Linked DNA regions of Homo sapiens: region 2 is linked to region 1. A link means that fine-mapping ties the variant in region 1 to the expression of a gene that starts in the linked region. Tissue or cell type: pancreas. Region 1 holds a variant in brackets; the other region holds the start of a gene. All regions are shown on one strand. Distances are between the middles of the regions. Region 1 overlaps FAT2 (FAT atypical cadherin 2). Region 2 holds the start of SLC36A1 (solute carrier family 36 member 1).

Region 1 (12,594 bases):
AAAAAAGATACTTTATTGTTAAAAAAAAAATGACCAATGAAACTATGTATCTGTCACTCACACTCACAGTCACACACACAGCCACAAACCACTCACACAAATTGGCTCTCGCCCACACATCTCCCTCTCGCATGAAGCAGCAGCCCTGTGGGCAAGGCTCCACTGCTCTTCCTTTTGACTTCTGTCTCCAGAAACAACACATATGAAAAGGCAGTGGACCAGAGGGAGGGACTGGGTGGGAGGGAGTGGTGAGGTCACCAAAGGCCACAGAGGCTTCTGGTCCCCACCACTCCTGGCTACATACACTCTACACATGTGTACACACGTACTATCCATGGGCACCCACATGTGTAGACATGTGCCCACATTGACCCTCCATGCATAGGGTTGAGTCGCCGCAGGTAATACTTGATGGGCAGGCGTCTGCAATGGAGAGGAGGCAATGGCAGGTGTCCAGCCTGGACACTGCGGTCCAGCTCCCTGCTTCCAACCGGCCCTAAATAGGAGTTCAGACTTCCTTGTGTCTAGGGAAGAAAAATCCCATTGAGGAAACTCATCCAGACAGCAAGGTCAAAAAGTGCCTAAGAATTTTTAAAATGAAGAATTAGTTCCTTCCTTCCTTTGGCCAAAAGTGCCTGGGAAACTTGGGATGAAGAACCCAGAGTTCCATGAGGTCTGAATTCTTTAACAAAGAAGGTTCAGAGCTGTGTAGACTCCTGGCAGGCCCTGACTGGCAGCCAGTGGTGTGACTCTGAGGTGGGCCCGTTCCTCTGCGTGTAGGCTGAGGAGTGGGACCTCTGGGGCCCGAGGCCTGGTGGTGCTCCTCGGAGTCCTTGTTGCCCTCCATCACCATTTTCTCCCCGGTGCAAAGCACAGTGCCTGACGTGGAGCAGACACTTGACAAAGACACAGTGAGTGCTCGACTGAGGCAGGGGCAGAGGGGACTGTGCCCGCTCCCCTGCTGCTCACCTCTCAGCCCCTAGGAGGATGCCACGCAGCCCTCTAGAGCTCCTCTGTACGGCCCGCGTAGTGGTTGTCTGTCAGGCACCAACCTGCCTGCCTCCAAAATGGAGCTGTGGGCAGGTATGAGAATGCATCTTGGTGAAGTTGAGCCAGCACAGTCAATCAGGCTCTGCCCCGGGGACTGAGAGCCGGCAGATCAGGGAGCCCTCCTGTCTCTCGCCCACCCCGGGAGTCAATTGTTCCTGGTTTTCCAGGGTCACTGCTCTAGAAATGCCCCTCTCCTGGGACCCTAGTGCTGTTTCTGGAGCTCTATCCTCAGCTTCCCTCCACCCTCAGGGACTAGGTGGGGGATTGGAAGAGCACATTTCAAGGGACAACAGCCTGGGCTGAGGGCTTCCCTCCCACTCTCCCAGCCACACTCAACTCACCCCCTACGAGACAGGAAGAAATAAGCCAAGTCCAGTCCTTGGCCTCCCGCCTGCCTTGCTCTGGGAATGGGAAGCTAGAACATGACCTCCTCACAGCTGCCATAATCACTCTCCACCATGTCAGAGCCCTCATAGTTGGGGGGCACCCGGGGCTGGCCCTGGCCTGCAAGAGGTGCCCCCTCCACCTCACAGACAGCATAAGAGGGCCCAGCTCGGCTGAGGCGCATACCCACCCCCTTGTAGCCCCCGTCTGCCAGGCAGGGCCCTCCCCCTCCCTGCCGGAACTGCGAGTGGTAGTAGCTGATGGCCGTGTACTCATTGAGACAGGGGGCAACCAGGCGCTCCCGGGGACTAGGGGGCCGAGAGGGCATCAGATCTTCCAGGTTCTGGTTGCTGTAACGGGGTGGGAGAGGTGCCCGCTTGTTTTCCATCTCCAGGGGGAAGGGGAAGCCCCCATAGAGGCCATTAGGCTCTGGCATCACGACTGGGGTTGAGTGGCGGTGAGCCGAGGGCGGCAGAGGGCCCTGAGTCACTTCGGAGTGGGGGTATTCCCAGCGTTCGTTCCTGGAGTAAGTAGGGGGCCAGACCATGGCTCCGCCAGGGTACACTGAAAGGGAACAGCAAGATAGGGTGAGCTCATTTTCTCCCCGGAAGGTTTCAGCTGGCTCTATAGCAACTATATATAACCTAGCGAGTGGTGGAGATGGGAGTGGGTGGGCATAGGCCCATCTGTGCAGGTTGTCTCTGTTGGCTTACGTTGATAACATAGAATCCAATGGGACAAGCTCAAGGCTAGAGGTTTGACCTAAGGCCAGCCCATCTTGCAAATCCCTGCCACTAATCTGAGGGTCAGTGAACAAGGGAAGGATTTGGATGTCTCCATGCAACCCACCCCCACAGCTGGATACAGTAACTCCATCCCAAGTCCTACTGGTGAGTTTCATCCCCTTAACTGAAGGAAACACACACACAGTTTGGACTCACTCACAGGTGTGATGGAGTCTATCATGGAGAGTGATGAAATGAGATGTGGCTCGGAAATCAGGAGACCAGGAGCCCTTGGTCCTAGCCCTGCCTCTGCTACTGAATAGTTGGGTTAGTTAGAACAAGTCACTGCATCTTGATGGGCCTCGGTTTCCGTATTTGACACATAGTGAAAATACCTATCATAACTGCTAATGATTATGCCAAAACATGAAGTGCTTTACTAATGCACCCCCTTTTGAGCCAAAGATGAGAAGAAGGTGATATTCCCCCTCTAGGTCAGCCAGGTCTGGCCCAAGGCTGCTGCACTTCCACACTGGGCAACCAGAAGCTTAGACCACTTCTCCTTTCCCTTCCCAGAAAAGCACAAATGTGCAGAAGCCCCCTTCTCACTCCAAGGGTTCTACCCAACCCTATCCAGGGTCTACACATTTCTGTCATGAACCTCAATCCCATGGAGTGACTTGGAATTTAAAGGAGTGCAATAGAATGAGCCTCAGAAACCTGGTATCTGCTCCAGCATCCGTGCCCTGTAATCTTGAACACATCTCATCATGTCCCATCCCAAAGGGTTGGATGCGTGGTAGCTAAAAATGCCTGTGCCTCAGATAACGGAGTGTTTAGAACCACCACCCACTTCCATCAATCCCAGAGGCTAAGCGTCTCTGGCTATACTGACCCATCTCCTCGCTGGACCAGGTTCTCTTAATGACAGGCTCATTGTCAGAGTGGGAAGGGACCGCAGCTGGCGGGAGTCTGGGGGGCACACTGCAGACCACTGGCCGTTGCTTAGAATTGGGTCCAAATGTGACGAGTTCATTTGGAACAGAGGCCTTGCTGGGTTCC[G/A]GTTGGTTGAGGTTGTTGCAGGAGCTGGCACTCAATGGGTTGAGCTCGATGGCAGGCATGGCTTGGGTGTCAACACCAACACTCCTGGCCAGGAGGTCTGGGTCCTCCATGGCCACAGGCTTGTGAGACTTGCAACGGCGGCAGTAGAAGAGAAGCCCGACAGTGCTTATGATAATGAACGCCACGGCCACTGTGATGATCAGTAACTCCTGCTGCCCCCAGTCCCCCCTTTGGATCTCGGGAGTGACTAGGCAGTGTCCTTCTGAACAACCCCTCGCCTCCATTTCACACCTGCGGAGACAGAGTAGTCAGGGGGCCAAGTCATGAAATTGCCCTTTCCATGTCCCCTCTTACAGAGATCTATGGGATAGAGACTGCTCCCCCCAAAACCTACCATCTCCCGTTTTTCACCCCCCAAAAAAGTAACTATCAAGCATATCAACATCAGAACTTTCCACCTTCCACCAGTAAAGTATGGGTCTCAGCTACATCCTCATTTGTGACCATTAGGATCTGGGAATGTCTATTATTTTTCCAGCAATGAGATCTAGGCACTGTATACACTCTCTATCATGAGGTCGGATTTCCTCCCATATCACTGCAGTAGAGACATCGACTCTCTAGCAATGATGTCAGGGTTCCAGATACAAGTCAGCATTGCCCAGTTATAGCAGCCAGGCACCAATGTTCCCTGCTGTGCTTCACCAGGAGGTCACAGGAGCCAACGTGGTCCTGCACAGATCAGCCACCTTACAATGGGCAACTTGCTCAGAGAAAGCATGCGAACTCTCAGGGTACCTCTAGCTTGGCATTCCATGGTGTGAAGCTCCAGGGAAACTTCTGTGGCCAGCTTTATCCACTTTTGAGGGCTATTGGGAAAGTTTGCCCCATCCCATTTGAGTCCAAAACATTTCTCAGTGCCCGAAATGTCACTACCAGTTGTTTGTTATTTTGGGTTAAATGTTGTTTTCCCCAAGGTCCTCTTTTAAAATGCAGACACCACTTTCAGCTGTGAAATGTCCTCCCAACACATCTCGTGAACGAATAGCATTCCCGACTGCAAAGCAGGGCAGGACACACCAGTTGCTGAGAAAAAGGACTGAAGTCGACTGGGCGCAGTGGCTCATGCCTGTAATCCCAGCACTTTGGGCAGCCGAGTCAGCGGGATCACTTGAGGTCAGGAATTCAAGACCAGACTGGCCAGTATGGTGAAACCCCGTATCTACTAAAAATACAAAAATTAGCCAGGTGTTATGGCACATGCCTGTAATCCCAGCTACTTGGCAGGCTGAGGCAGGGGAATGGCTTGAACCTAGGAGTCAGAGGTTGCAGTGAGCCGAGATTGTGCCATTGCACTGCAGCCTGGGCGACAGAGTGAAACTCCTTCTCAAAAAAAAAAAAAAAGGACTGGGGTCATCAGCATACCCAGAGTAATCATGGGAAAGCCCTTTCCCTGCCTGGGCCTCAGTTACTGCAGCTGTAAAATGAGTGGGTGAACTACATCACTGGCTCTTATACACAGGCTAATAGCAAAGGGATCCACTGAGAGCTTGTTAAAAATAGAAGCTAGGCCCATTCTTGGAGATTCTGATTCAGTTGGTCTAGGCTGGATCTTGGAATCTATATTTTTCATGTCTCTTTCATGATTCTTTAAAGGCTCCCAAGTTTGGGAGCCCTAAAACCAGATAATTGTCAAAGTCTCTTTCTCTCTAGGATTCTAGGAATGACAGTTTCCCTTGCAACTGCCACAGCCCCACACAGTATGAGGCACAGACAGCTGGCAGTGGGGTTCCAGGCACAGCAGCACCTGCCCAAGTGGAACCATTTTCCCCAGGTCACTGGGAAGTTCAGGTCCAGAGTGAGAGAATAAGCACTTCAGCCATTTTCAGACTGCAGCAAGGACCAGAACTACCTGAGGAGCTGGTTAAATGTACAGATTGCTAAGCCCCAGCTTGTGATTCTGAGACAGTATGTTCAGAATAGGGCTGGGGAAATCTCTAATAAGCAGCTTCCTCCTCCAGAAGTGTTGTAATGCAGGTGGTTAGAGAGAGACACCCTAACACAATGGTCCACAACCCCTGGGTCACGGACCCATACTGGTCGGTGGCCTGTTAGGAGCCGAGCTGCACAGCAGGAAATGAGCCATGGGTGAGCAAGCATTACCACCTGAGCTCCGCCTTCTGTCAGATCACTGGGGGCATTAGATTCTCACTGGAGCACAAACCCTGTTGTGAACTGTGCATGTAAGGGATCTAGTTTGCATGCTCCTTATAAGGAGCATATATCTAATGCCCGATCTGTCACTGTCTCCCATCACCTCCAGATGGGACTGTCTAGTTGCAGGAAAACAAGCTCAGGGCTCCCAACTGATTCTACGTTATGGTGAGTTGTATAATTACTTCATTATATATTACAATGTAATAATAATAGAAATAAAGTGTGCAATAAATGTCATGTGCTTGAATCATCCTGAAACCATCTCCCGTTTCTCCTGCCTGGTCCGTGGAAAAAGTGTCTTCCATGAAACCGGTCCCTGGTGCCAAAAAGGTTGGGGACCACTGCCCTAACAGATGGAAAAGGCCTAGAAGCCAGGTCCCTGCAGCACTCTCCCCTGGCCTCCCATTGGACTTTCTAGAGGTCAGAGTACAGAGCGCATTCCCTAACAAGGAGCCCATGGCAGGTGGCCTCTCCTGGGATTACCTGTCTCCTGTGTAAGGATGAGGGCAGTTACAGGAAGCTCCTTTGGGGGAGAGGATGCAAGTTCCACCTTCCAGGCAGGGTGCAAAAGTACAGTTCTCCCTTCCTTGTTCACAGTGCTTCCCAGAGAACTGTGGGGGACATTTGCAGACATAGCCTAGGAGAAAAAGAAGGGAGGTGAGAGACCGCACTGGCCTAGCAGTTAAAGGAGACCTGGCATTGGCAGACTGGTGTGTTTGTGCAGCCGTTCAGTTACCATTTATTTATTTGGTTGCTCCCCTCTGTGCCCAATACCGTGCTGGGCATTGGTGCCCTGCTGAACCAAGAGCACTTTGGTCCCTGCCCTCAAACAGCTTACAGCCCACCAGAGACAACAGTCACCTAAAGAACAGTAATAAACAGGATAACAACCATAGACACTAACTTAGTGCTAGTCACTGTTCCAAGGATCTTCCTGTGTTGGCTCATTTGATCCTCACGATGACCCTGAGGTTGGTGACTGTCATCATCCTCATCAGGGGACAGGTACAAAGGGATGGCAGATGAGGAAAGGAGGCACAGAGAATGGACAGAATTTGCTCAAGCCAGTAAATGGCAAAGCTGGGGTTCAAACCTAGACAGCTAGCTATAATATCAGTATCTCAGTAATTATAATAAAATTAATTTTATTGAAGGGAAATGCTGGGAGGGGTGGGGGATGAGGCTAGCTTACTCTAGGGATCTGGGAGCTATTTCATTTGAGATCTGAAGGATGAGTAGAAATTAGCTAGGCAAGAAGCTAGAGGGCAAAGAGAAAGGTGTTTCAGGCGGAAGAGAAGAGTGCGTGCAAAGGCTAGGGAAGGGTGTGGCATGGTCAAGGAACTCAAACCACACCAGGGTGGGCCAGCCTGGTGAGGGACAGGGAGAGTTTGAACTATGGCCTGGGAGGTGCAGGAGCCACATGCAGGGATTGGGACTCTATCCTAGCAGCATGGCGGCCACTGAGCAGTTCTCAGCAGAAGAGTGCCATGCACAGGTCTGTGCTGGATAAAGATCACCCCGGCTCCTGCTGGAAGGTGGAAGGCCGGGATAGAAGCTGGAGAACAGGGAGGAGGCTGGTGCCAGGGTGAGAGGTGATGGGGGCTTGGGACAGAGGGACAGCAATGGGGAAAGAGAGAAGTGATGGATTCCTTGGATATTTTGCAGGTAGAAATGACATGATTAGCCAGACAAAAATCAGAAAAAGGGGTAATGCGAAGTGTTGACAGGCATGTCACATGTTGACAGGCATGTGGGTACATAGGAACCTCTCATGTTGTGTGTGATGTATAGAATAGATGGCTGAGAGGCATGTGGGTACACAGGAACCGCTCATGTTGCATGTGATGTATAGAATAGCCATGCTGAGAGCAATGTATCCCTATTTAGTCAAAATAATTATTTGCATACTGTGAGCCTGTGACTTCCACCCCTGGGTGTCGGGTGTGTGTGTGTGAAGGAAACTCTCACACAGCTTCACAAGGAGACATATAGGAGAATGCTCCCTGCAGCATTGATGATGGAGATGGGTGTTTGGAGTGCGAGGGTGGAGAGGGAAAATGTGAGTGCGTGTACATCATGGAGTACTGAGCCACAGTTAGAAGCAATTAATGAGAATTGCTCATGGCAGCATTGACAGATCTTAAAAATATGGTGCTGAGCGAAAGCGTAAACAACATATACCACTTATATAAATTGGAAATTCAAGCATATGAAAAACAACATGTATTTTGCAAGAACTCATTCAAAAACTGTAAATGTTTGCCTCTAGTGTTAGGGAAGGGGAAGGGAGTGGAATATAAGTTAAAGGGGAATGAGAAGGAGACTGTGCATAGACCAGTGATGACACTAAGGTATGTGATTAATTCAACCCTCTGCCCCTGAGGTCCCCATTCATATCCTCCCTCATCCCCCCAGAAGTAGAAAGATAGTTTTTGTTGAGAGGGAAGGAAGACTCCTGGCTTCCCCTAGTCTAGATATTGCAGATTCCAACCTGTTACTCACAAGTTAGGGGAAGAGAGAGAAATTTGGAACCAGGAGGCTCTGAGATCTCCACCCTGACATGCTTTTCCCACCTGAAGAGCCTTCTGGGATAAACCCTGGGTTCAGCCTGGCACCCCAGCCCTCACCTGCCCCATGGGTCCATGAGCACTTCCCACCATTGAGGCATGTGTTCTGGCTGCAGTAGTCACTGTGGAGGCAGCACTGGGTGAGGGCTTGTGTCTCCAGCAAGCCTGCCACCGTCTTGCCAGGGGCCAGCAGATCTAGAGCCTCTTCGTTGACCACGACAGCATCCAGGCAGCCTTCAAAGCCCTGGGAGACATTCGAGGAAGAATGCAACAGAATGAGGCCGCCCAGCAAGAGGTGCCTTTCGGGCCTCAGACCACGGCAGTTCTCTGGGACCACAAGGGAGGTGTTGCCCATGCTGTCAACCATCAGGCGAATGGAAGCGTCCATCTCCTCCACCAGGATGGAGTGCCACTCGTGGTCATTCACATGGCGCTGGGAGGAAAGGTTTCCATAGAAACCACCCAGACAGTGGTATTCCAGCTGGGGCACTCCACTGGCCAGCTGCAAAGGAAATCCAAACAGCCATCAGCAAAGCCAAGGAGTCCTTGTAAACCTGCTAAGAGGCTGCCAGTTCAAAGAATGTTGTTTGTATTTTTATGGGTAGGAGGGGGGTGTTTGGCTGTTTTAGACATGGCATTTGCAGAGCATAAAAACCCTCAAAGTGCTTTTGTGTTGATGGTCTCCTTTGTTCTCACCACACCCCATGGGATGGTCTGGGTAGGGGGTGACATCTCCATTCACAGATGAGGAAACTGAGGCCGAGAGATGCTTTGCTGATCAAGACCCTGTATTTTGGATGCTTCTTCACAGGCCTGTCCAGAGTTCCACACTTGTGAATATTGGCCTTCAGCGATTTGAAAAACCTGTCTCCCACTCCCACTTCCTTATTCAACAGCTTAGCAGTTCTCAAAGTAGGTCCCCAAGACCTTTTCAGGGAAGCCACAAGGGCAAAGTATTTTTATAGTAATCCTAAGAGTTGATTTGCCTTTGTTTTCTCACAAGTATACAACAGAGTTTTGGAGACACATGTTGTCACAACTGATGAATGCAGAAGTAAATATGAGAAGCCAGCTATCTTCTATTAAGCCAGGCAAAAGAGAGGCTTGCAAAAATGTAAAACAATGCCACTCTTCCTTTTTCTTTCGGAAAGTAATTATTTTTCATAAAAATATATAAAGACATACACTCATATGTTGATTGCAGCACTTTTCACAATAGCAAAGACATGGAATCAACCTAGATGCTCAACAACAGTGGGCTGGATAAAGAAAATATGGTACAGATACACCATGGACAACCATTCAGCCATAAAAAAGAATGAGATTATGTCCTTTGCAGCAACATGGATGGAGTTGGCGGCCATTATCCTAAGCAAACTAACACAGGAACAGGAAATCAAATACCACATGTTCTCACTTACAAGTGGGAACTAAATGCTGAGTACACAGGGACGCAAAGAAGGGAACAATAGACATCAGGGCCTACTTGAGGGCAGAGGGTGGGAGAAGGTTAAGGACAAAAAACTACCTATCAGGAACTATGCTTATTCCTTGGGTGATGAAGTAATATGTACACCAATCCCCTATGATACATCGGTTACCCGTATAACAAACCTGCATATGTACCCCCGAAACTAAACTAAAAATTGGAAGAAAAAAATTATTTAATTAATTAAGGTATTTATGTTGACATGTGAGTTTATTATTTCTAAATAAATTAATACATTTTTAAATATCTCAGTTTTAATGTCTAATACTGAATATGTTGATAGTTATAACCCACATAACCAAAACTTCCCTGGAATCCTCAATAATTTTCAAGAGTGTAAAAAGTCCTGAAGTCAAAAAGTCTGAGAACCACTGGGTTAAAACATTTTAATTCACTTCATTCCCAAGAGGTAGGACTGCCTGTGACCAAATACTTTTCTGGTCACTTTGGGCTAGGTAGAGTTTTCTCTGTTGAAATTTGAAGATCTAACCCAGTGTTTCTTATACATTGGCTATCTGTAGACCACCTCTCAGATTTTTGCCCCAGTTGAATACTACCTATACCTTTATTTACTTAAAAAGGAGACACTATTATTAGGGTAAATAGAAAACCAACACACTTGCCTTTAAGAAAGGGGGATAACAAAAATGAATGCAACTCAAGTAAAACATTGCAATGAAATCATTTCTTTTTATCTGTCTGGGACCACAAATCTGTTGATCCCACCGTCTTTTCATTGTCTCCCACCTCTGTAATGTCCTCGTTCCTCTCCTTATCCAGTTTAAGTTCCATAGTCAATCATCCTAACTACTCCCTTCACATACTCTTGACCTATCTCTTTCTTACTTCGTAGAACTCTCTTGGTAAACCCACAACTATGGAAAAAGCTAACTCTCCACCTGCTCTATACAGACATGGAGCAGAACATGGCTGGAGAAAAACGTGCAGCTTTGCTCACGAGCCTCTCTTTAATTTCATGACCATGGCTCTCAAATGAGCCTTTAATGCTGCCCAGCAATCACACTCCCTTCCTGAGTCCATCCGTTCTTCCAGATGACTGTTTTCACTACGTCTCTCTCCTGAGATCCCTAATGCCTCCCTCCTCATTCCCACTCTCAGCTGATCATCTCACATCCTACTGAAATCATCAGATGGGGGAACCTGCAGGCACTTTCACCATCACATCTATCCACCTTAGCTAAAGCCAATCTCTCCATTTATGCACTAGATTCTACCTCCTCACCTCCTCAAGGGTCTACTGATTCTCCTTCCTCTTTCTTACATCTTTGTTCGTTCACCACTATATCATTCCACAGCATACACACATGGTGTTATTGCTCTAATCTTTATTTTCAAAAATATACCTTCTTTACAGATGATAATCTTTATTTTTTTAAAAAAGGTTGTCTTCACCTCAGTTTTCCAGCCAGATATTTTCCTTCTTTCCTGTCCCTTTTCCGCAAAATTTCACCCCAACCCACCATACACGGAAACCATTGGTGTCAGGGGATTCAATGATCTCTGTGTTGCCAAATCACTTCCCATCTTACTGGCCTCTCAGCAGCAGATCACCCAACAGATCACTCCTTCCTTCTTGATACGTGTTCTTCACTTGGCTTCCTGCATACAATACTCCCTGGGTTTTCCTCCAGCATCACCGGTTACTCATGTTCAGTCTCCTTTGTTGAATCCCCTCTTCCCCCAGACCTGCTAATGTTGGAGGGTCTCAAGGAGTAATCCTTGGCCTACTCTCTCTTCAATCTACATTGCTTGGTGATCTCCCATCTCATGGCTTTCAGTACCACGTATGCGCTGAAGACTCCCAGATCTCCATCTCCAGCATAGACCCCTCACAACATTAGGCTTGTCTTACCAGATCCACTTGGAGGTCTAATGGGCATCTGAAACTTACACATCCGAAACTGCACTCTGATCTCCCCTCCCCAAACCTTGTATCCACCCATACCCTTCCCCAGGCCTGCTGGCACAAACTCCATTCTTCCAGTTGCCCAGGCCAAAATCTCACTACTTGCCTTCTCTCCCACCCTTCATTCAATTCACTGGGAAATCCTGTTGGCTTTGCCTTCAAAATCTTTGTAGAATCTATCTTCTTTCCAATTCCTCTGTCATCACCCTGGTCTAAACCACCATCCTCTCTTATCCAAATTATTGCAGTGGCCTCCTGACTGGGTCTCTCTGCTCCTATCTTTGTTTCTCTAAAGTCGATTCTCAACAAAGAAGCCATGATGACCCTTTTAAAATAGATCATTGCAATTATCTGCTCAAAACCTTCTAATGCCTCCATTTTGCTCAGAATAAAAGCCAAAGTCCTTACAATGTCCTACAAGACCTTCATAGATATGCCCCATCCCATTACGTCTCTGACCAACTCCTCCTCCTACTGTTCCCTTTACCCACTTCACTGGAGCCAGGTAGAACTCCAACCCATTGCTTAAACATGCTAAGCATTCTCCTGCCAAAAGGCTTTCACATTGCTATTCCCTCTATCTAGAATGTTGTTCCTTCCAGATGTCCATAGAGCTAACTTTCTCACCCTCTCCAAATTATTGCTCAATTATTATCTCAATGAAAGCTTCCCTGGCCACCTTATTTAAAATTGTAAAATTGTAACTCCGGCTGGGCATGTGTTTCATGCCTATAATCCCAGCACTTTGGGAGGCCAAGGTGGGTGGATCGCTTGAGGCCAGGAGTTCAAGACCAGCCTGGCCAACATGGTGAAACCTCGTCTCTGCTAAAGACGCAAAAGAAAAAAATTAGTGAGCGTGGTTGCACACACCTGTAATTCCAGCTACTCCAGAGACTGAGACACAAGAATCACCTGAACCCAGGAGGCAGAGGTTGCAGTGAGCTGAGATCATGCCACTGCCCTCCAGCCTGGGCGACAGAGTGAGACTCTGTCTCAATAAATAAATAAATAAAAATTGCAACTCTCCTCACCCCTGATGCCCCTCCATTTTTTCCTTTTTGCTCATAATACTTATCACATTTGAACAAATTCTATAATTTTCTGAGCTATTATGTTTATGTTTATTGTCAGTCTCTCCCCCATAGAACAAAAGCTTTAAAAGGGATTTCTGTC
Region 2 (15,788 bases), 63 kb before region 1:
CACTAGAACAGCATGGGGGAAACCACTAATGATCCAATCACTTGCCACCCAGGCCCCTCCCTTGACACATGGGGATTACAGTTCGAGATGAGATTTGGGTGGGGACACAAAGCCAAACCATATTATATCATAATTACCTCCTTTCAAATCATCAAAAAATCACAATAAGAAATGTGTAAAACAGGCTGGACATGGTGGCTCACTCCCGTAATCCCAGCACTTTGGGAAGCCAAGGTGGGCAGATCATGATGTCAGGAGATCAAGACCATCCTGGCCAACATGGTCAAATCCCATCTCTACTAAAAATACAAAAATTTGCCAGGCGTGGTGGTGTGTGCCTGTAGGTCCAGCTACTTGGGAGGCTGAAGCAGGAGAATTGCTTGAACTCGGAAGGTGGAGGTGGCAGTGAGCTGAGATCATGCCACTGCACTCCAGCCAGGGCAACAGAGTGAGACTCCATCTCAAAAAAAAAAGAAAAGAAAAAAAAAAAAGAAAAAGAAATGTTTAAAACAATAGCATGGCCTGAGGCACATTCCAGTTGTATTGATCTGGCCCCAGCACTTTTCCTATGTACTTGAGCTGATGATTTCTTGCTTCAGTGGCTGTTTTTCATCTGTTCCACTCCAGTGCTAATTTACTTTATAGGAGACACCCTCCTAAGGCACCAGCATGTCATATCTGATGGTGTTTGGTCTTCTTTATAGGAATTTTATTTTTTCTAATTTCCACTCCAAAGTTAAGGAATTTTCAAATTCATTTTTCAGCACTTGTGCCACTTAATAAATTCTTGAATTTTGTTGTGATTGGGTTGCCAAATATTGAAATCATAATGCTGATGAATGCTTATACTACAGCGAAGAATTACCCAGACCACCCACAGGAGTTTCATGAGTGTGAATAACGGCATTGCTCTCTGTATAGTGACAAAAGTAGGTAGGCCTTTTGTATCCCTACGTAACAGTGTAGCATGCTTTACAGTGTAGCAGGCAACACTCACCGCAGCTAGGGATGGGGCTGCAGCTCTGGTAAAGGAGATACAGGAAGGGCACCTACAGCATCTCCTAAATGCCTCATAGGGCTGCCACGAGGATTGACTCAATCAACAAGAAACTAGTTCCTGGCACATTGTAAGCATATTTTCTTTATTTTTTATTTTTTAAGATACAAAACCTGAGAATTTTAGAGTTAGAAGCCACTGTAGGGGGCAGTGGTCTTAACAGAGAGAGGCTTGACAGTAGGGCCATCAGTCACAGAATGTTCAGGAGGATGGATCAGGGACCCAAGGGGTCTCAAAAAGAGAGAAGGAGAGGGAAAGGGGACACTGGGTAGGGTTGCTATGACATCTCAGGGGCTGGTACTCTTGAGGGCTTGGGATGGGTAGAGTGGTTAAAAAAAAAAAAAGGAAGTTACATTCCTCAAGACTATGGAATGCAAAAGGATTAATTTCCCTAATATCTCTCAGCAGCATAACCCCTCATGTTATATATAGAACCTTTAAGCGCCTGATCTCATCTGCTTTTCCAGCAATCCAGGGAGGGAGGCAGAACCAAGGAGGGTTTTCAATCTCACTTTCCTGATGATGAAACCAAATGGAGATCAAAAGTCTTGCCCAGGTCACCCAGCTGGGAAATAAGGGGAAAAAAACCTTCAAATTACTTTCTACCACTCAGCAGAAATAAGTCACTACCAGGGGCTGGCCACACAACATGTTAGCACATGGCTAAAGCAAGTCCCTTCAGAAGCTTGTCCTTTAGGGCAGTGGTTCTACAGCACGAGAGAGCATCAGACTCTCCTAGAGGGCTTTTCAAAATGCAGATTGCTGTGCCCCCACAACCCAGGGTTTCTGATGCAGTAGGTGTAGAGTAGGACCCAGAATTTGCATTTCTGCAAGTTCCCAAGTGATGCTGGTCTAGGGACCACACTTTGAGAAGCACTGGCACAATGGTTAAAACAGAATGCATGCTAGTGATGTGCAGTGGCATGCACCTGTAGTCCCAACTACTCAGGAGGCTGAGATGGGAGATCACTTGAGCCCAGGAGTTTGAGGCTGTAGTGTGCTATGATCACTCCAATATGGGCAACATAGCAAGACCTCATTTCTAAAAAAATGAAACAAAAGGCAAAGAAATGGAGTGCATACTCTAAGGCAAAGTTTTTAATAGTATGTGCTATAAACAAGAGGTTGTATTTAATGTATGTTAATATACATCAGAGCTTCTAAGAAGACCTATGAAAAAACAGTTCTGCACATATTGAAAGTGGAGGAGACAAGTGGGTAGAAGGGGGAGAAATGAGAAAATTGTGAAGAGTAAAAGTCTTAAGCAAAACAATAAGTACTGGTATTTATGATTTTAAATTTAAACACCATAAACCTGTATATTTCTATACATACGTATATATTTCTGTAATTGTATAATATAGGGTTTGGAGAACAATACACACATGCTGGCACCTGTAAACCTTTGGAGAGGGGAGTGAATTTGGGGAAAGGGGATTTTCAATTTATATATTTCTATATTGTCTAACTTTTAAGAATATATTAACCTATTATATAATTTTTTACTGAATATCTTAATGCTTTTATTGAAGTATAATTGACATACAATAAACTGCACGTATTTAAAGCATGTAACTTGATAAGTTTCAACATATATATTCACCTGTGAAATCATCACAATCAAGATGGTGAACAAATTTGTCCCCTTGAAAATTTCCTCATGCCGCTTTATAATCACCCTCTCTCCTGTCTCTCCTCCGCATTCCCAGGCAATGGCTGATGTGTGTTTTCCATTACTTTATATTATTTTGTATTTTCTAGAATATTATATAAATGAAATATTTTCCTAATGTCTTTTGCTTAGCATAATTATTTTTTGATTTATCCATGTATAATTATTTTGACATCCATTTTGTAGCTGTATTAATAGTATTTTTTGGTTGAGAACATAATTTTTGTTTTAAAATTATTTTTCAAATAAATGTTTTTGTGTATATTTAGCATTTACAACATGATGTTATGCGATACTTATAGATAGTAAAATTGTAACTATAGTGAAGTGAATTGCCATCTCCATCATTTCACATAGCTACCCATTATTTGGGGTTTCTTTTTTTGTGGCAAGAGCAGCTAAAATTTACTCATTTCACAGGAATTTTAAATACAGTGTGATTTTTTTATTTTTAAAAAGTTATTTTTAATTGACATAACTATACATATTTATGAGGTACACAGTGATGTATACAATGTACAGCGATTACATCAGGGTAATTAACATATCCATCATCTCAAACGCTTATTTCTTTGTGTTCAGAACATTCAAAACCCCTCTTCTAGCTATGTGAAAATACATCCTATATTATTGTTACCTATGCTCATCCTACAGAGCTATAGAACTGATTCCTATCTAGCTGTAATTTTGTATCCTTTAACAAATCTCTCCCTATCCTTTCCTTCCACCCTGCTCAGCTACTAGTAACCTCTGTTCTACTGTTTGTACAGTACAATTGTATAACCTATAGTCCTTATGTTGTCCCTTTGAGCTCTAGACTTATGGATCCTACATATCTGCTACTCTGTATCCTCTCAGCTGCATTTCTCCACTTCCTTCCTCCAGCACTCCTGGGCCCTGGTCACCACTGTTTGATTCTCTATCTCTGTGTATTTGACTTGAAAAAAAAGATTCCACATATAAATGAGAGCATGCAATATTTTTTCTTTCTGTGTCTGGCTTATTTCACTTAGCATGATGTCCTCTAGTTTCATCCATGTTGTGGCAAATGGCAGGACTCCTTTCTTTTTTTAGAAAAATGTTTGTATATATACCACAGTTTCTTTATTCATTCTGCTGTCAATAGACACTTGGATTGTTTCTATATCTTGGCTGTTGTGAATAAAGCTACAATGAATATGGGCATGCAGATATCTTTATGGGGTGGTGATTTCATTTCCTTCGAGTATATGTCCAGAAAGGGGATTGATGGGTCATATGGTAGTTCTATTTTTAATTTCTTTAGAAACCTTTATACTGTTTTTTTTAAAAAAAGAAACTTTTACACTGTTTTCTATAATGGCTGCACCAGTCTACAGTCCCACCAACAGTGTACTAGAATTCCCTTTTCTCGACATCCTCACCAATATTTGTTGTCTTTTGACTTTTTTGATAATATCCAACCTAACATGTATGAGGTGATATCTAATAATGATTTTGGTTTGCATCTCCCTGATGATTAATGATGTTGAACACTTTTTCATATGCTCACTGAGCATTTTTATTTCTTCTTTGGAGAAATGTTTATTCAGGTCCTTTGCCCATTTTTAAATTGGGTTGTTTTTCTATTGCTGAGTTATATGAGTTTTTGATACATTTTGGATATTAAGCGCTTATTAGACATAGGGTTTGCATATATGTTTTCCAATTCATAAGCTGCCGTTACACTTTGTTGATTACTTCCTTTGCTGTGCAGAAGCTTCTTAGTTTGATATAGTCCTATTTATTTATTTTTGCTTTTGTAATCTGAGCTTTTGGTCTGATATCCAAAAAAATCATTGCCAAGGCCAGTGTCCAGGAGCATTTCCCCTATGTTCTCTTCTAGGAGTTTTGTAGTTTCAGATCTTACATTTAGGCCTTTTATCCACTTTGAGTTGATTTTTATGTACGGTGTAAGATAAACATCCAATTTCATTCTTTCTCACATAAAAACCAGTTTTCTCAGCACCGTTTATTGAGGAGACTGTCTTTTCCCTATTGTGTTCTCTTGATGCCCTTCTTTAAAATTAGTTGACCATATATGTTTGAATTTATTTCTGGGCTGTCTATTGTGTTCCATTGGTCTATCATATCTGTTTTTGTGCCAGTACTATACTGTTTGGATTACTATATCTTTGTAATATAATTTTGAATCGGGAAGTGTGATGCATCCAGTTTGTTTTTCTTTTTCAGAATTGTCTTGACTATTCAGGGTCTTTTGTGGTCTCATGCAAATTTTAGGATTGTTTCTTATATCTCAGTAAAGAATGCCGTTGGGATTTTGATAGGGATTGCATTGAATCTGTATATTGCTTTGGATAGTATGGACATTTCCACAATGTTAATTCTTCTGATCCATGTGCATGGGATATCTTTTCATTTATTTGTGTCTTCTTCAATTTATTTAATCATTGTTTTATAGTTTTCAGTGTACACCCTATTCATGTCCTTGGTTAAATTGATTATTGAGTATTTTTTAATGCTATCACAAATAAAATCATTCTCTTTATTTCTTTTTTAGGTAGGTAATTATTTGTGTATAAAAATATTATTGATTTTTTAATTTTTTTTTGAGATGGAGTCTCACTCTGTCACCCAGGCTGAAGGGGCGCGATCTCAGCTCACTGCAACCTCCGCCTCCCAGGTTCAAACAATTCTCCTGCCTCAGCCTCTCAAGTAGCTTGGACTACAGGCATGCACCACCATGCTGGGCTGACTTTTGTATTTTTAGTAGAGACAGGGTTTCACCATGTTGGCCAAGCTAGTCTTGAACTCCTGACCTCAGGTGACCCACTGCCCTGGCCTCCCAAAGTGCTGGGATTACAGGCATGAGCCACTGAGCCCAGTCATGTATGTTGATTTTTATGTCCTGAAAATTTACTAAATTCATGAATTATAACAGTATTTTTTTAATCTTTGGGGTTTTCTACATATAGGATGATGTCACCTGCAGATAAAGATAATTTTACTTTTTTCTTTCTGATTTGGATGCCTTTCTTTCTTTTGCTTTTTTGGCTGATTGCTCTTGCTAGTACTTCCAGTACTATGTTGAATAGAAGTGGTGAGGGTGGGTATCCTTGACTGCTACTGGATCTTGGTGGAAAAGCTTTCAGTTTTTCCCTATTAATTAAAATGTTAACTGTGTGTTTTTCATAAACGACCTTATTATGTTGAGGAATGTTCTTTCTATACCTAAACTATTGAGAGTTTTTTTTTATCAAGAAGGTATGTTGGGGTGGGGGTTAGGGAAGGAAAAGATGTTGGACTTTGTCAAATGCTTTTGCCAGGCCAATTGAGATAACCATGTGGTTTTCATTTTTCATCCTGTTAATATGATGTATTATATTGCTTGATTAGTGTATGTTAAACCAGCCTTGCATGCCAGGGATAAATCCCACTTGGTCATGATACATAATTTTTTTGATTGTTGTTGAATTCTGTTTGCAAATATTTTATTGAGGATTTTGTACCAATGTGCATTAGCGAAATCAGCCTGTAATTTTCTTTTCTTGTGGCGTCTTTCTCTGGCTTAGGTATCAAGGTGATGCTGGCCTCATAAAATGTGTTTGGAAGTATTCCCTCTAGCTCCATTTTTTGGAAGAGTTTAGTAACAAACCTTCTTCTTTGAATGTTTGGTAGAAGTCAGCTGTGAAGCCATCTGGTCTTGTTGGGAAGTTTAAACAGAAAACCAGAAAGTCAGATAGTCCCTGTCTCATCTTCAATCTCTTTATTTGTTATTAGTCTGTTCAGGCTTTCCATTTCTTCCTGATTTCAATCTTGGTAGGTTGTATTTTTCTAGGGATTTCTCCATTTCATCTGGGTTATCCAATATGTTGGCAAATAATTGTTCACAATAGCCCCATATGATTCTTTTTATTTCTGAAGCTTCTGTTGTAGTGTCTTCACTTTCATTTTTTATTTTATTAGTCTTCTTTTTTTTCTTAGACTAGCAAAGGGTACGTCAATTTAATTTTTTCCAAAAAATCAACTCTAGTTTTATTGATTTTGTCTGTTTTTTTTTCTGTTGTCTATTTGATTTATTTCTGTTCTGCTCTTTCTTTTCTTCTTTTAACTTTGGGTCTTGTGAGCTCTTCTTTTTCCAGTTTCCTGAGGTATAATGTTAAACTATTTAATTGGTCTCTTTCTTCTCTTTTAATGTAGGCATTTATTGCTATAAACTTCTCTCTTAGAACTACTTTTGCTGCATTCCATAAGCTTTGGTATGTTATGTTTCCATTGTCAATTGTCTGAAAATATTTTTTAAATTTCCCGTTTGATTTCATCTTTGACCCACTGGTTGTTTCGAAGCATAGGACTGGGTATGGTGGCTCACACCTATAATCTCAGCACTTTGGGAGGCCGAGGTGGGCAGATCACCTGAGGTCAGGAGTTTGAGACCAGCCTGACCAACATGGTGAACCTCGTCTCTACTAAAAATACAAAATTAGTCGCGCGTGGTGGCACGTGCCTGTAATCCCAGCTACTTGGGAGGCTGAGACAGGAGAATCGCTTGAATCCAGGAGGCAGAGGTTGCAGTGAGCCAAGATTGCACCACTGCACTCCAGATGGGGCAATAAGAGCGCAACTTTGTCTCAAAGAAAAAAAAAAGCGTGTTGTTTAATTTCCACATATTTGTGAATTTTCCAAGATTCCTCCTGTCATTGATTTCTAGCTTCATATTATTATGGTCTGAAAGAATATTAATATGATTTCAATCTTCTTAAATTTAAGGCTTGTTTTTTGGACTAGCATATGGTCTATTCTAGAGAATGTTTCAAGTGTGTTAGAGAAAAAATGTGTATTCTGTTTCTGTTGAATGGAAAGTTCTGTATATATCTGTTAGGTTCATTTGGTTTAAAGTGCAATTCAAGTTCATTATTTCCTTATTTTCTCTCTAGTTGCTCTATCCATTGTTGAAAGTGGGATATTGACCCTCCTACTATTGTGTTGCTATCTATTTCTCCCTTCATGGCCATTAATATTAGTTGTATGTATTTAGGTGCTCCAATTTTGCATGCATATATATTTACAGTTGTGTCTTCTTGATGAATTGACCCCTTTATTATTAAACAATGATCTTCTCTGTCTCTTGTGACAGTTTTTGACTTGAAGCCTATTTGTTACATAATTGTTAAAGGAAAAGTCTGTAACAAGGAGGTAAAAGGAGAAGCCTAGATAATACAATACTGAAATGTTGCCATCCATTTAAAAATGTTACTTTAAAAATTTGAATGTATTAAAAGATAATGTTGCCCTACCCCACAGTTCCATTTCCAGTAGCAACCACAGATGATAGTTTGTGTATGCTTCTGAAAAATTGGAAGTTTTAAAAATATGCATATTTCTTATTATAAAAGCAATACAAACTCATCGAGATGTGTAAAAGAAAATACAGCCAGTGTAAAAATTAGCAATATTTCACAAACCCACAACTCAAGGGACAGTGCTCTTCGACTGGACTCTGCCCCATGCCCAAGATCAATGCCCTGTTCAGTTCCTATTCGCAGTCCCCAGCGCCCAGGAACATAGTCCTTCCAGCAGTGGCAGTAATAGGTCGCCAGGTGGTGCTGTGGAGCAGAGCTCCGGAGCTCAGTGAGAAAAAAGGCGCGGCCGCTCAAGGGAGCACGTGACCTCGGCCTCTGGCGTGGGCGGTGGGATCACGTGATGAGGTCCGGAAGCGGCTGCCGGGCAGCAAAGGAGGATGGCGAGGGGCTGATACTGAACCCGGGAAGGGTGGGCTGTGCTGAAGCCAGAGCCGGAGCCGGAGCTGGGGCCAGAACCCGAGCAGTGAGTTCCTCCACTGGCTGCCGGCTGGCGGCGCTCGCCGCCTTGGGCAGGACCCACCTCGCCTTCCTCCCGGCGTGGCAGATGCTCCAGGTCAGGCACTGGATCCGCCCGGGCTGTGGGTCCGCGACTCCTTGGCGTCCCCGGGCCGCAGCTGCGGTACGACGCTGACACCCCTCTGTGAATTGGGCGAAGCGTGGAGATCCCTTGTCCCTCGCGCTATCTCCCTTGACCTCGTGGGGTTGGGATCTCACCGTCCTGTTTGACTGACAGGTGGGGGAAACTGGGGTAGATGGTGAAGATAACCCAAAGGACCATCTAGGGCGTCTTTCACGCTTCGCACAGGTCTCCCCGTTTCCAGCAAATGTCTTGCCCGCTGCGGGAGCGCTGCTTGAGACAGGCTCATAATGGGTCTTTGGGTCAGAACTGCAAGGACGCTGGGAAGTCGTCTGGTGCAGCTCCCTCCTAGGACAGTTGGAGAAACTGAGCCCTTACTCCGGGAAGGGGTAAGGGCTTGCCTAAGGTCATCCAGTGAGTTAATCGGAGACCCGGAGACCTGCGACTAGAATGCAAATGTTCCTAAGCTTCAGCAGCTGTTTGCTTTTCGCCACACCGCCTCCTGCGGGAAACTTCACCTGTGAAAAGGCACTCCTTTCTGTCCCTTTCTCTTTTAGTCCTCTCCCTTTTTAGCTGTCTGCATTTTCCACCGCTGGGGTTGGATTTGCTCTGGGTGTGGTTCCCTGTTTGTTCATTATTTTTCTGCAAACTCATCCTTCTGTAGGTTTGGTTTCTAACCTTCCTGCATTCTATGTAAGTCACACCAAAATATGAAATATGAATCGGAATGTGCTTCTGGGAAGATAGGTGGCTGAGCCGAGGTTGTGGAGAGCCCTGACGTTAACTTGAAGAATGTAAAGACCTTTGCTTTATTTTTTCTGTAACTTGTCAGATTTGGGATTGCTTATTTGGATGGACGTTTTGCAGTTATTTGAATTTTGCTGAAGATAGCATCATGGTGCAATGGACAGAACAGAGATTGGGGAATCAGGATATTTTGTCCTAGCTCTGCCGCTTACCTGGCAACCTTAAGTGACTCGCGTTTGGGTTTCTCAGTCTAGACAGTGATGGAATTGAATTCTTAAGGGCCCCTTCTGCTGTGATCTGGATGTTGTGCATCTTTCTAGGCTTGTTTTTTTGTTTGTTTGTTTTTAAATAGAGATGAGGTCTCACTATGCTGCCCAGGCTGATCTCAAACTCCTGGGCTCAAGTGATCCTCCCACCTTGGCCTCCCAAAGTATTGCGATTACAGGGGTGTGAGCCAGTGCCCCTGACCAGGGTCTGTTTGTTTTTTTATTCCGAGAGATTTTACCCGCTGTGTACACTGAGTATCAGCCTTGCAACAAGACTTAATCTAATTGTGTAGGAAGCAGTTTCCTCTGCTTATTCCTCTGTTGCTATAAAATCCTCCTCCTCTTTCTTCCTATCTCTGTATTATGTCTAAGCTAAATACTAACAGCTGAAAATGATTTTTAACTGTCTGTTATTATTTTAAACATGATCAGGGCCCTCTTCTGACTCTTGTCTAGAGCCTCGTTTACAGTAATTAACTTACTTGTACATTTAGAACATGTTTTCGTTAAAAATGTTCTTGAAGTCAAGTGGAAAGGGACAAACTTTGTGTTTGTCTGGGGATGGAGGCTACGTGCAGCAGAGGCTGTGCTGATAACAGCTTTAAGCCTCTCCCTTTGTTTTCTGATTGTATCGTTTATATTCGCCTGCTCTGGAGTCCTTGTTTTCCCTTTAAGGCATGTAGCTGTTCATTCAGCCTCCTCTTGTGGCAGTTCGAAGTGCTCAGAGTTTTCTCTGTTCCAAAGGCGGTGTAAGAAAAAGGGATTCCATTTATTTTATAATATTCTGGAGACTACAACTGGGACCAATAGATGAAAGTGCCATAAGGGAAGGGTGTTTGGTAAGTGTTAAAAACTTTCAAAGAATTAGTGGTCTCCTGTATTAGAACACTGAGCACGGAGCTCCCTGTCACTGGAGGTAATCGTCTCTGGGCAATTACTTCGGGGATGTTGTAGATGAAATTAGATTGTTGGGTAGAGGGTTGGACTAGACAAAATTTTAAGTTTTCTTTCAACTCAAGAGTCTGTGACATTCTAGGACTGGACTTACTAGCATGTAGAGTGGATGGAGCAGATGTCCACTTACTAGCATGTGGGATGGATGGAGCAGATGTCCACTTATTACTAGCATGTGGGATGGATGGAGCAGGTGTCCACTTAGTGGCATGTAGAGTGGATGGAGCAGATGTCTGCTTACTAGCATGTGGGATGAATGGAGCCGATGTCCACTTACTGGCATGTAGAGTGGATGGAGCAGATGTCCACTTATTAGCATGTGGGATGGATGGAGCCGATGTCCACTTACTAGCATGTAAAGTGGATGGAGCAGATGTCCGCTTACTAGCACGTAGAGTGGACGGAGCAGATGTCCACTTACTAGCATGTGGGATGGATGGAGCTGATGTCCACTTACTAGCATGTGGGATGGATGGAGCTGATGTCCACTTACTAGCATGTGGGATGGACGGAGCCGGTGTCCACTTACTAGCATGTGGGATGGACGGAGCCGGTGTCCACTTACTAGCATGTGGGATGGATGGGGCAGGTGTCCACTTACTAGCATGTAGAGTGGATGGAGCAGATGTCCACTTACTAGCATGTAGAGTGGATGGAGCAGATGTCCACTTACTAGCATGTGGGATGGACGGAACTGGTGTCCACTTAACTAGCATGTGGGATGGATGGAGCCGATGTCCACTTACTAGCATGTGGGATGGATGGAGCAGATGTCCACTTACTGGCATGTAGAGTGGATGGAGCTGATGTCCAGTTTTGTGATTACTTTGTTTCTATTTATAACCTTGTCTCAGGTAACTATTCTCATATTAAGTACTCCTGCTTTTTCTTTCTTTTTATCACCACCACCTCCCCTCCAGTGAGTATCTCAGTTCTTTAAATGCTTGATATCGCTTCAAAGGTCAGATGAGTGAATAGTCTTCTGTTTCTGCTTTTCCTGGCCTGGTGCTGATAACCGCTTCCAAAGTGCATGACTGATTAGCATTACTCACACCTAGGCCAGCTTTTCTCTTTTTCCCATAGAGGAACTCACATGGAATCCGTTTATTTCCATCCAGGCCTTCTCTTGTTTCCCATAGAAGAAGCTCTCACTGAGTCTGTTTACTTCCACCCAGGCCTTGGAAGAATCCTGTACCTCTCTCCTTTGGCCAGGCCTTACTGTGATGAGCACATAAAGGTAGCCTCTACTTAATGGGCATGGGGGCCGATGGATGGGGCATTGTAAATAGGCTGAAATAGGAACCACACGGTGCTGCATTTGGGGTTGTCTCTTCTTTTATCCCCCAAAATATTTCTCTTGGAAGCCTTGACACCCAGGGCCAGTTCTTTTTTTACTTATTATTTATTTTATTTTATTATTATTATTTTTTTGGAGATGAGGTCTCACTATTTTGTCCACGCTGGTCTTGAACTCCTGAGCTCAAGCAGTCCTCCCACCTTGGCCTCCCAAAGTGCCGGGATTACAGATGTGAGCCACCATGCTTGGCCCCAGGGCTAGTCCTTAATGACCATCTCTAGTAGGAAAAGCCACTCTGTGCTTTCCTTTTCCATGAAGTTAGGAAATCTGTCTGTGGGTTACTGAGATGTTCATGTCACTTAGATCACCATCTCCAAGGTAGGGACCTGGCTTCACAATCCAGAGTTTTAAATGGAGCCCATACTGCAGACTTTGTTTAGTGAACTTTCTCACTTTCTGTCCTTGAACTTCTCTGTAGTAATAATCACAATTGCTATCATTAATGAGGGTTTATTATGTTCCAGGCAACATATCTAACATTTATTTATTTTTTCCTCCTATCTTCATAACAATATTGTGATGTAGATGTTATTAATGACATCTTTCAGATGAGGAGACTGTGGCAAAGGGAGATGAATTAACTTGCTCAGAGTCACACTACCAGACTGCAAACTCAGGTGCTTTTTATTATGCAGAATACCCGCTGCAGACCTAATCCTGCCCCAGGCTCTGGGGCCAGCTTTGTTCGCAGGGAGATTTTAAGGAGGGTATATAATTTAAGGTGTGGTAGAAAGAATACTGGACTGGGATGCTGGTTTGCTGGACTGTCATCTCAAATCTTTGATTTGACTCATCCTGGGGCCTGGATGAGTCAGCCTTTGTGTGTGGGCCCTGGTTTTCTGACCCCTAAGAAGGAAGCTGGAGCTTGACCTTCTCTAAAGCTATACCTGGCCCTAACATTTAGTGATCTTCATGGTTGGGAGTAAAAGTGTGCGTGTTTGCCTGTTCAGCAGCTGCTTTGTGCAGAACCTGCTGAGGTCAGCAGCTGCCCTGTAGCTGTTCTAGCATCAGACTCCTACAGGAAAAAGTCTCAATTTATGGAATGTTCTGCTCTGGTAAGTTGGATGGAATTCTATCTGATGCTGTTTTAAAAACAAATTATGTAGAAGCCAAACCATTTTACTTCCCTCACTGTAGACCACACATAGCAACACAGTCTGTGTCTTTGTTCATGTTTTTAGAATTCCATCGACAGAGAGGAGAAAATACATCTGGGGAATTTGCCGCTGCTCTGAGTTCCAAAGTCCAAACCAATGTAATTGTTTCAGAATAACGGATGACACTTTTAGCTTGCAAACAAGGGGCGCCAATGCGTGAATTCTGGTAGGAGGTGAGGCCTAGGGTGTACCTATCATAATAAGATCATATATTTTTTGTAGTGCTTTATATAAATCTACCTATAATCAAGATTACCTAGGAAGCTAGTTAAAAATAAAACGCCTCTTGCCTGTAATCCCATCACTTTGAGAGGCTGAGACAGGTGGATCCCTTGAGGTCAAGAGTTTGAGACCAGCCTGGCCAACACGGAGAAACTCCATCTCTACTAAAAACACAAAAAATTATCTGGGCATGGTGATGGACGCCTGTAATCCCAGCCACTCGGGAGGCTGAGGCAGGAGAATCGCTTGAACCCAGGAGGCGGAGGTTGCAGTGAGCCAAGATCACACCATTGCACTCCAGCCTGGGCAACAGAGGGAGACACCATCTCAAAAAAAAAAAAAGAAGACAAAAAGACAAAAACAACAACAAAAAAACATAGGCTGGGCATGGTGACTCATGCCTGTAATCCCAGCACTTTGGGAGGCCAAGGTGGGTGGACCACCTGAGGTCAAGAGTTTGACACCAGCCTGGCCAACATGATGAAACCCCGTCTCTACTAAAAATAGAAAAAAATTAGCCAGTTGTGGTGGCGCATGTCCGTAATCCCAGCTACTCGGGAGGCTAAGACAGGAGAATTGCTTGAACCTGGGAGGCGGAGGTTGCAGCGAGCCAAGATCGCACCACTGCACTCCAGCCTGGGCAACAAGAATGAAACTCCATCTCCAATAAATAAATTAAAATAAATAAATAAAATAAAATAAAATAAAATGCTAAGGTGGAATCAAGTTGGGCCCAGAAATCTATTTTTTTTTCCTTGACGTATGTTTCATTTAACCCAATATATCCCAGATATTATCATTGCAATATATAATCAGTATAAAGATTATTAATTCATGGGATATTTCACAATTTTTTTGTTACCAGTTCATTGAAATCTAGTGTGCACATTTCAATTTTACCCAAGTGTATTTCAAGTGTAAGATAGCTATTTATGGCTAGTGGTTACTGTACTGGATGGTACAACTTCAGAATATGTTACCATCTATTGATCTTAATCCTCCTTTATTTTGAACAAACCCAGTCACTAAAAAATTGAAATTGGAATCCTGAAACTTTAGAAGTGAAAGTGTACTTAGAAATCATCTAATGCAGTTTTCTCAATTCTATATCAAAATAAGAAAACAACTTTGGGATTAGAATGACAGCCAGATTATGTTCTCCTGAGTCCTGAATCCCATGCTGTTAAAATGGGAACATTAGCATTTGAATTTATTAGAAAAATTTCTGGCCTTGCCTTAAAAAAAAAAAATCACTGTAGAATTCCCCTTAAAATTGCCCACTTCTGAAAAATTTAACACCTACAAATTTTTATTTTTAAAAATAGAATAAAATTTATTTTATTTTTAAAAATAAAAATTCAGTTTGCACATACATTTTCCATATTGCATCCGTTGCACAAAGTGATTCCACCTGCTCATTTTTAGTGCCCATCTAAAAATGGCATATTTTGTAGATTGAAGAGCAACACTTGTCTATTTATACAGCTAAAACAATAGTTACATAAGGAAAAAAAAGGAATGTTTTAAGGTTTGTACACTTAAATTTTTTTTTTTTTTTTTTTTTTTTGGCCATCAAACTTGCAGACTTTTTTTACTCAGTTGCTCACTCTTCTGAGTCTAAATATCTAATGGAGATTTGGACTTTGTGTTCTGTTTATTGTCCTCAGTAATCTGAAGGACAAGCTTGCCTTCAACTCTCACATAGTACAACCCTCATTTAGACAGTTAACAGGTACTATTAAAATCTCCCATAGGGCGGGAACTGGCAATTGCAGCAATAGACTTGGCTATCAGATTTCATCAAAGGGAGCCTAAGGGCAGTGTGGCCATGGATGCCAGCACTCATGGGGACAGACAGAGAGCAGGAGGAGGAGGCCTTGGTTTCCAAAAAGAGCCATAGAAAGAACTCCGGGGAGTGGCTCTGCCCACTGTCTGATGCTTGAATCCTTACATAACTGCTCTGAGAAAGGGCTTTTGCTTGGATTTTTTCAGGGATAAGGGAACAGGCTTTCTCCCAGAGTGATCTGTTCTATTTGGAACAGATCTGTCTTTGATAGAAAGTTCTTCCTTACACCTAGCAAAAAATCAGCCCTCTTGACTCTCCACGTACTGATCCTAGCCCTGCCTGACCTTTGAGGCCCCAAATAACAAGTCTAATCCATGTGACAGCTTTTTTTTTTTTTTTTTTTTGAGACGGAGTCTCGCTCTGTCGCCCAGGCTGGAGTGCAGTGGCGCGATCTCGGCTCACTGCAAGCTCCGCCTCCCGGGTTCACACCATTCTCCTGCCTCAGCCTCCCGAGTAGCTGGGACTACAGGCGCCCGCTACCACGCCCGGCTAATTTTTTGTATTTTTAGTAGAGACGGCTTTTAAAGACAGTTTTTGTACCCCTCAAGTTGCTAGGTGGAACCTTCTCAGTGCTTTCAACCATTCCTCATT

What was found. PIP is the estimated chance that this variant, and not a neighbour inherited with it, causes the effect.
Region 2: it holds the start of SLC36A1, and the variant in region 1 is fine-mapped to the expression of SLC36A1 in pancreas (GTEx, PIP 0.96).

What each region holds. Positions count from the first base shown.
Region 1 is chr5:151,504,100-151,516,693 of GRCh38, forward strand. FAT2 (FAT atypical cadherin 2) reads right to left here. Exons shown (of 24, transcript NM_001447.3): 21 at 8,066-8,507; 22 at 5,922-6,075; 23 at 3,055-3,512; 24 at 1-1,998. The coding sequence ends at 1,466. It also overlaps a transcript of SLC36A1 not described here. Among named protein-coding and RNA genes, the nearest start is that of MIR6499, 12 kb to the right of the region's middle. The variant G/A (reference allele first, on the strand shown) is at 3,222.
Region 2 is chr5:151,439,190-151,454,977 of GRCh38, forward strand. It overlaps SLC36A1 (solute carrier family 36 member 1), which reads left to right and starts at 8,414. Exons shown (of 11, transcript NM_078483.4): 1 at 8,414-8,624. RefSeq lists enhancers at 8,394-8,443, 12,847-13,016 and a cis regulatory region at 12,932.